Linked DNA regions of Homo sapiens. The protein of the gene in region 2 purifies or fractionates together with the protein of the main gene of each other region. This does not show direct contact. Each region holds a gene or a part of one and is shown on either strand. Other genes may lie near its edges. The genes, in order: MNAT1 and ABLIM3.

Evidence for each region.
Region 1: the proteins of ABLIM3 (region 2) and MNAT1 purify together in Homo sapiens (affinity purification with mass spectrometry; one large-scale study listed by BioGRID and IntAct). This does not show direct contact.

What each region holds. Positions count from the first base shown.
Region 1 is NC_000014.9:60,811,110-60,814,933, reverse strand, and holds part of MNAT1 (CDK-activating kinase assembly factor MAT1), read right to left. Parts: intron 2,948-3,824; coding exon 2,807-2,947; intron 1-2,806.
Region 2 is NC_000005.10:149,245,954-149,249,777, reverse strand, and holds part of ABLIM3 (actin-binding LIM protein 3), read right to left. Parts: intron 3,297-3,824; coding exon 3,232-3,296; intron 1,997-3,231; coding exon 1,849-1,996; intron 1-1,848. UniProt on the Homo sapiens protein: May act as scaffold protein. May stimulate ABRA activity and ABRA-dependent SRF transcriptional activity.

The DNA.
Region 1 (3,824 bases), on a different chromosome or scaffold from region 2:
GTTTTTAATTTCTCACCAAACAGCTACAAAAATATAAAATACAACATGTCATTTCACTGTTAAAGCCATACCTGCCACTTAATAGTTTCAAGAAAGAACTAATGAAAGTTGCTAGGGAAGGCGTCATTATTCTATTTAATATGCTGGTGTCCTCATTTTTAGAGCCAAATTCACATTCCAGTCATAGAAAATAGAGTTTTATGACAGTGTTTTCTATCTAAGCCTCATGAATGCCCTTACCCTTATTTTTCCTTTAGTTTCTCACCTCCTTATAATTTAAGTAATCTTGCTTTCTCTTTTTTTACTCCTGGTTAACTGACTTAAATGCTTTTTTGGCAAAAGCACAGTAGAAGAACACATATATACATATTTTCCCCAATCATAGGATAATAGCATTATCAACTAGACAAGAAAGTTAAGTGTATTAACACTGCATACACACACACACACACAAACACAAAAGCCTCAGGGAAATAAATTATATGAACATAAAGGGAAAGAGAAGAATGCAAAAAGACTTTCCTGGAGAGGAAGATTTTCCGGTTTGTGAAGTCATCAATATCATACAGGGTTATAAGTATCAAATAATATAGTAATAAATCCATGAAACACTTCATAAACCTTAGTTATTATTACTGTCATTATCTAACAAGGTTGACTACCTAGGAAGCTAATTGCTGGAAAACAATAATTTGCAAAAACCCCGCTATTTCTTTCAAGCAAAAATACACTATTTTTTTATGCAAAAATATAAAATATATTGTCACAAAGTAAACAGTCAATATAAACTTCAGCATGGAGCCAAAATGAGCTCATTATTAGAAAAATAGTATTAATCAGGAGAAAAGTGCTTCAGAAACAATGTATTTTAGTCAGTTAGCTTAAAGCCATATAAACAATCTATCAAGAATATACTGGCTCATCTCAGTTATAATGTCACTCTCTCATCTGAAAATAAAATGGATATTAAACAAAAATCTTTTTAAAAATATAGAAGTAAAATATACTAGAACCTCATTTTAACATCGTTCTTAGAGTTACACAAAGTAAGTAGTGCCATGTCCACAAACAATACTCTTATCTAGGAAATCACTTTAAATCCTTCATAGTAGTTGGCATGATATAAATAAATAGGCATAAGGGTAAGACAAACTACAATATGAAAATGAAAGTCATTTTCATAATTCTTATCACTAAACTCACATTGGGATAGAGACTGAGTATCCCAAATGAATTTATATTATGCCAAATTCTAGAAAAACATAGTTTTCCCCAGTACATACTGTGTGGACTAAAGATGGCCATCACACTCCCATTAGGAGGTGAGATCTATATCCATTCCCTTTGTAACTGAGTGGGCTCTTTTACTAATATGGTGGAATCAGTGCTGTGCCAGTTTCCTAGCCCAAGCCCTAAAATGTTAGCATCTTCTACCTCCTTATTCTTGGGATATTCTCTCTTGTAACCCTGAGCCAACATGTGAGAAGTACAATCACACTGTTACAGAAATTGATGCAGTTTCTGATGTAGTCAGCCCCTTCACTAGATTCACGGTAAGGACTCCCCTCTACTAGACCCACTGCACTCAACTCTATGTGGGAGGGAGCACGTGGGTGAGTCAGCGCAGATCTAGCCAGCTGCTCCAAGCACCAATACAGGAACAAGTTTTGCATGGGGCCCGCAGTCAGACCAGACACAAGCAAGCAAGTGCAGGACCCAGCCATCCGCCCCAGGCACGGACACAGAAGCAAACTCTACGTGGGGCCCACAGCCAGACCAGGCATGTTGCCTCAAGGGGAACATGGCAGTGCCCAGGTGAGGGGGCCCACAACCCCAAAGCCCCAGGGGAAGTGTTACAGTGCTCCTTTAGTTCTGCCATCAGACAACAGTGTGTTGGCAGCTCAGTTGGCTTCTGGCCTTGTCACCTAGGGCAGCTGCTCTCCACCAGGAAGGGCAAAGTGCCAGTGTGACAGCCTTTCTGGGTACCCACACTTGGTGGGTCCCAAGCTCTTGTCTGGCATCCAAGAAGAATGAGGTCACAGGGATGGTTAAAAGATGGCGAAGGTGATAATTTTATTGAGCGATGAAAACAGCTCTTAGCAGAGAGGGGAGCTGGAGAGGGGACAGGAAGAGCAAGTCGTCTTCCCCGAAGTCAGGTTGTCTCTTCCTCTACTTACTGAGTCTGGGGTCTTTATAGGCACAGGATGAGGAGAATGTGCTGAATTAGCTTATGAGTAAGCAAAAAAGGTTGAAGTGAAGACACTACTCAAAGATGGGCATGACAGTGTAGAAAACCAATTAGGAAAGGGTAGATATACATAAAATAGGTGAAGAGTGGGGATCAATCAGAGGAAAGCACACCAAACAGGAGGACAAGTTCTCAATCTGGTCCAAGGATTTAACTTGTAGCTTGGCTTTCAGGTTTTAAACTGTCTTCAACATGGAGATGGGGTTTCTCTGGGTACCCGTCCCTATCTGCCTAGGCATTTGGCTGCCTCCTGTCGCTATCAAAACCACATGGAGAGGTGTCCTGAGAATACATTAGGGAAGCAGAAAAGCCCAAAAGAACCACTTAAATTCCTAACCCACAGAATTGTGAGCATAAAAACATATTGTTCAGTGTGGATGGAGGGCAACCTCTTATTCAGCAATAAATACACTGATATCAATACATAACCAACAAAACTAAAGGTGAACCAGATTACAAACACTGTGGAAAAGCCCTTTAAATGCCATCATCCAGCCTACTAGGAAAGGTAAATCCTGAAGAATGTTTTTTACAATCACAATTAGCATTAATACATACCAGCTCATCTAAAAAAGCCTGCTTATTCTTCCTTTTTAGAATCTGCTGCAGTTGTTCTTCTTTTTGTATAAATAATCTTCTTTGTTCATTTTCCTGTCGTTCCACTTCTAAAGCTTCTTCCAGTTCTTCCTGTTCTCGAGTCTAAAACAAAAATTTATATATGGCGTGGAATAAATTTAGGAGCCAAGAGCAATCATATACCACACTCTAATACTTTCTTTATTGGAAGCATAAAACACACTAGTCACTTATTATTTAATAATGTAGCAATTCCATATTGAAGAAAATAGAATTTACTTTATTTCATGTAGACACGTTACTATTAAATAAAACAACTATTCTGTTATACCATACTAGTGGAATTTTGCTATACTAAGGCCACTGGGAACATATTAAGGGAATTTGAGGGATGAGTTTAGAAAGATGACTAGAGGCAGTAAGGTATACATAAAGATCAATTGGGTTCAAGACTGACAATAGGAGGACTAGTTAGAAGTATATTCAAATAACCCAGATAAGAAATAAGAGCCCTACGCAGCGGCTCACACCTGTAATCCCAGCACTTTGGGAGGCCACGGCGGGTGGATCACAAGGTCAGGAGTTCGAGACCAGCTTGGCCAACATGGTGAAACCCTGTCTCTACTAAAGATACAAAAAATTAGTCAGGCATGGTGGCACATGCCTGTAATCCCAGCTACTCGGGAGGCTGAGGCAGGAGAATCGCTTGAACCCAGGAAATGAAGGTTGCAGTGAGCCAAGTTCACACCATTACACTCCAGCCTGGGCAACAGGGCGAGGTTCCATCTCAAAAAAAAAAAAAAAAAAAAAAGAAAGAATAGAAATAAGAGCCCTAAATAAAGTAATAATCTAATTAGAGTGGGGATGAGGCTTAAAAATGATAAGGAGTGATCATCAACAGAATATAAAGACTGACCAAATATGGATTGAACACTTGGATGAATGCTGGCACCATTCACTGAAACAAAGAGCATAATAAGAGACAAAATAGACTTTAATT
Region 2 (3,824 bases):
GAAAGACAAACATGGTGAAGACAATTCATGGGGACAAAGAGATGTGGCTTCCATACCCGATCCCCCTGGCTGGCTGGGAAAAGGGGCCTCCTGCAGCCCCTCCTGAACTGGTCAGTTTTTAATTGTTGCACTTGCACCCCATCTCCCTTCCCTGTCCAGCTCCCAGCCTGGCACCTGGCACAGGGCAGGTGCTCTGTGATATTTGTTGCACAGATGTGGTTGAACAAGGTTGAATTGCAAACAGCACTGGTGCACTGCACAGACCCCGCAGCCAGGGCTTGGAAACAGTGGCCCTCAGTGGTCAGGCAGGAAAACAGGCTCAGCAGTTCATCCTGGCTCTGCCATTAGTAGATTTCTAACTTCAGACAATCTAATTAATCACGCTTTGGTTTTCTCATCTGCAAAATGGGGAGTGATAGTGCCTCCTTTGTAGGATTATTGTGAAGAATATGTGACACAATACAGTAAGATACTTAGCATAGTGCCTGACGCATCTATAACACTCCATAAGACTGGCTTTATCATATTGCCGCCAACACCAACATCTTCAATCTCACTGAGAGTCAAGGTGTAGTATGGGGAAGAGGGAAGAGCTCATGGCCTTGGGGCCACTCCAACTTGGGTCTGATCCTGGCTCAGTCACTTACTGGCTTTTGACTTGGAGCAAGTGGCTTAACCTCAGTTCTCTCATCTATAAAGTGGGTGATAATAATCCCTCTACATTGCAGCTCTACCAGGAGTGTAACATTCCTACAAATGCCTGGCACATAGAAGTGTAATAAATGGTGCATTTTATTATCCATAATGTATTGATCCGAGATGAGATTTCCTGGCAGGACTGCATCTCACAGGAGTAAGAAAAGGAGGAGGCAGACAGAGTGTGTGTGTGTGTGTGTGTGTGTGTGTGTGTGTGTGTGTCCAGGAATAGGAGGAGCTTGCAATGAGATTTTCAAGAAGTATTTGAATAAAGCCCCTGCTTGTATAAGTTCAAATCATGGTAGACTCACTACCTCAGGAGGCCATCCCTTACATCTTTGAGCCATTCCGATGATTATAAGACATCGTTCTTTTTTTTTTTTTTTTTTTTTGAGAGAGAGTCTCGCTCTGTTGCCCAGGCTGGAGTGCAGTGGTGCAATCTCGGCTCACTGCAAGCTCCGCCTCCTGCCTCACGCCATTCTCCTGCCTCAGCCTCCCGAGTAGTTGGGACTACAGGTGCCCACCACCATGCCCAGCTAATTTTCTGTATTTTTAGTAAAGACCGGGTTTCACCATGTTAGCCAGGATGGTCTTGATCTCCTGACCTCATGATCTGCCCGCCTCGGCCTCCTAAAGTGCTGGGATTACAGTCATGAGCCACTGCGCCCAGCCAAGCCATTTTTCTTTATACTGAATCTGACTGGAAGTCAGAGCTTCAGATGCCCCAAAGCAATGGGAGTGACTGCTCAGGGCAGCATGGTCTTACATAGTGCCCCATAGAGCGCCTTTCCAAATCTGTATTCTAGACCTCAATGAAGCTCCCAGAAGGGGCATTGCAGGGTTTGGGGCTAACCTTTGTGGCCAGCCTCTTCTGATTCTTTTGTTAGCCCAGGGGATTGAGACGGGGCTGGCTACATTCCAATAGAACCTAATTTATAAAAGCAGGCAAGGAAGCTGATGAAGTAAGCTCCATTACTGATAAATTGAGTGATCTTGGGCAAGTCACCCACCACAGGGCTGCTGTGAGGAAGAAGAGAGAGGATGCATGGGCTGTGCCTCAAGGGAGCCTGGCTCAGAGCAAACAGCTGACACTGCCAGCTAGTCACAGAGAAAGGTGTCCCCGCCCCGTTGGGCTTCCAGAGCCATGCTTACAGCCATTGAGGGACATCTCATAGCCAGCTGTGTGCAGGGCTTCCCGGCTGCTGGTGGAGCTCCGGGGAGGGGTCCAGGGATCTGCATAGGAGCTCGACCGGGCCTTCATTTCTTCCTTCAGAATCAGCCGGCCAATTCCACTTTGGAGCTGAGGGTCGGGGAAGAGCAAGATAAAGTTAGAAGGAAAACAAAGGACACTGAGATGGAACGGGCTTGGGCAAGGCTGAGGATCACATCCTCCATAGCAGCCTGCTCTCATGTTTGCCTTCCCAGCGTCCCTCCCACCTTGTGGCACCCATGTTTCCTGTTGCAATCTCATCTTGTCTTCCACAAGTTGTCCTGTGGTCTGGGTGGGGGTCTGGTGGTGGGCACAAAAAAGCAAGCCTGGCCAGTGACAGGATCCCATTGTCTTGGCACAGTGATTGATTCAACAATGGGCAGATAGCCACCTTTTTCTTTTTAACTGAGGTGAAAATTACTTAACTTCAAATTAACCATTTTAAAGGAAATGATTCAGTGGCATTCAGTGCATTCACAATGTTGTGGAACTACCACCTCTATCTCGTTTCAAAATACCATTATTTCCCCCAAAGGAGATCCCATATCCATGAAGCACTCACTCCCCATTCCCCTCTCCCCGTGCCCCTGGGAACCAGCAATCTATGTTCTGTCTCTATGGATTTGCCTATTCTGCATATTTCATGGAAATGGAATCACACAATATGCGACCTTGTGTCTGGCTTCTTTTCTTAAGCATAATGTTTTCAAGGTTCATCCACATTGTGGCATGTATCATTACTTCATTTCTTTTCATGGCTGAATAATATTCCACTGTATGGACATACCATATTTTGTCCTATTCATGAGCTGATGGACATTTGGATTATTTCCATATTTTAGCTTTCGTGAATAGTGCTGCCACGGATATGAGTATATATGTATTTGTTTAAGTCCTGTTTTTAATTCTTCTGGGTATATATCTAGGAGTGGAATTGCTGGATCATGTGGTAATTTTATGTTTAATTTTTGAGGAACCACCAAATTGTTTTCCACAGGGGCTGAAACAAGGGTTTCACCAGCAATGAACAAGGGTTGCAAGCACCTGCTTACCATTATGTGAAAATAGCTTGCCTGAGCATGAAGCCAATGCAGAGGCAAGCCCCAGAAGTGAAGAGACAAATTTCCTATGACATTTTTTTGAGCAGTTGGATCTAGTCATACTTTAAGCTAATTCCACCATTTGATTTTTCAGTTATGCAAAGCTATGCTTTTCTTTTTTCTATCATAAGTGGGCTTGAATCTGTTTTTTGTTGCTTGTAAATGAAAAGACCCTCAGTGATATACGCTCTAAGCATCATATTCAGTGCTGTGGTCTCTGCCCACCTTGTGCATGCTGCGGTCAAAATCATCCTCCTCTCCTCCAGACGAGAACCTTCTGGCTCGGGGCACTGTCAAAAGACAGAAAAGATCAGCTCCGGCATGTGCACCCCACTCAGCCTGGCTTAAGGCATTTTTTTTTTAAAAAAGAAAAGCCACTTTTCTTTCTTTTTAATCTTATTTTTCAATGGAAACAGTCTCGTTTAAGCTAAGCCCCACATCAGCTGAAAGTGGTCTCTGCTGCCTTTGTGGTCTCTGAACACTCCTCTCCTGTGGGGATGGATCACTGCCCACTTGGTTATAGTCGTATTTGTGTCTTACCTTCTTTTCTAAATGAAGACTTCTTTGAGAGTAGCGAACGAGTCATCCTTTTATTAAATTTTTAAATTTTTGAGACAGGGGCTCACTCTCACCCAGGCTAGAGTGCAGTGGTGTGATCATGGCTTGTTGCAGCCTCAAGTCCCCAGGCTCAAGGGATCCTCCTGCCTCAGGCTTGCATGTAGCTGGGACTACAGGCATACACTATCATGCCCAGATAATTTTTAAAAATTTTTTTGTAGAGAAGAAGTGCTATGTTGTCCAGGCTGGTCTCAATTTCC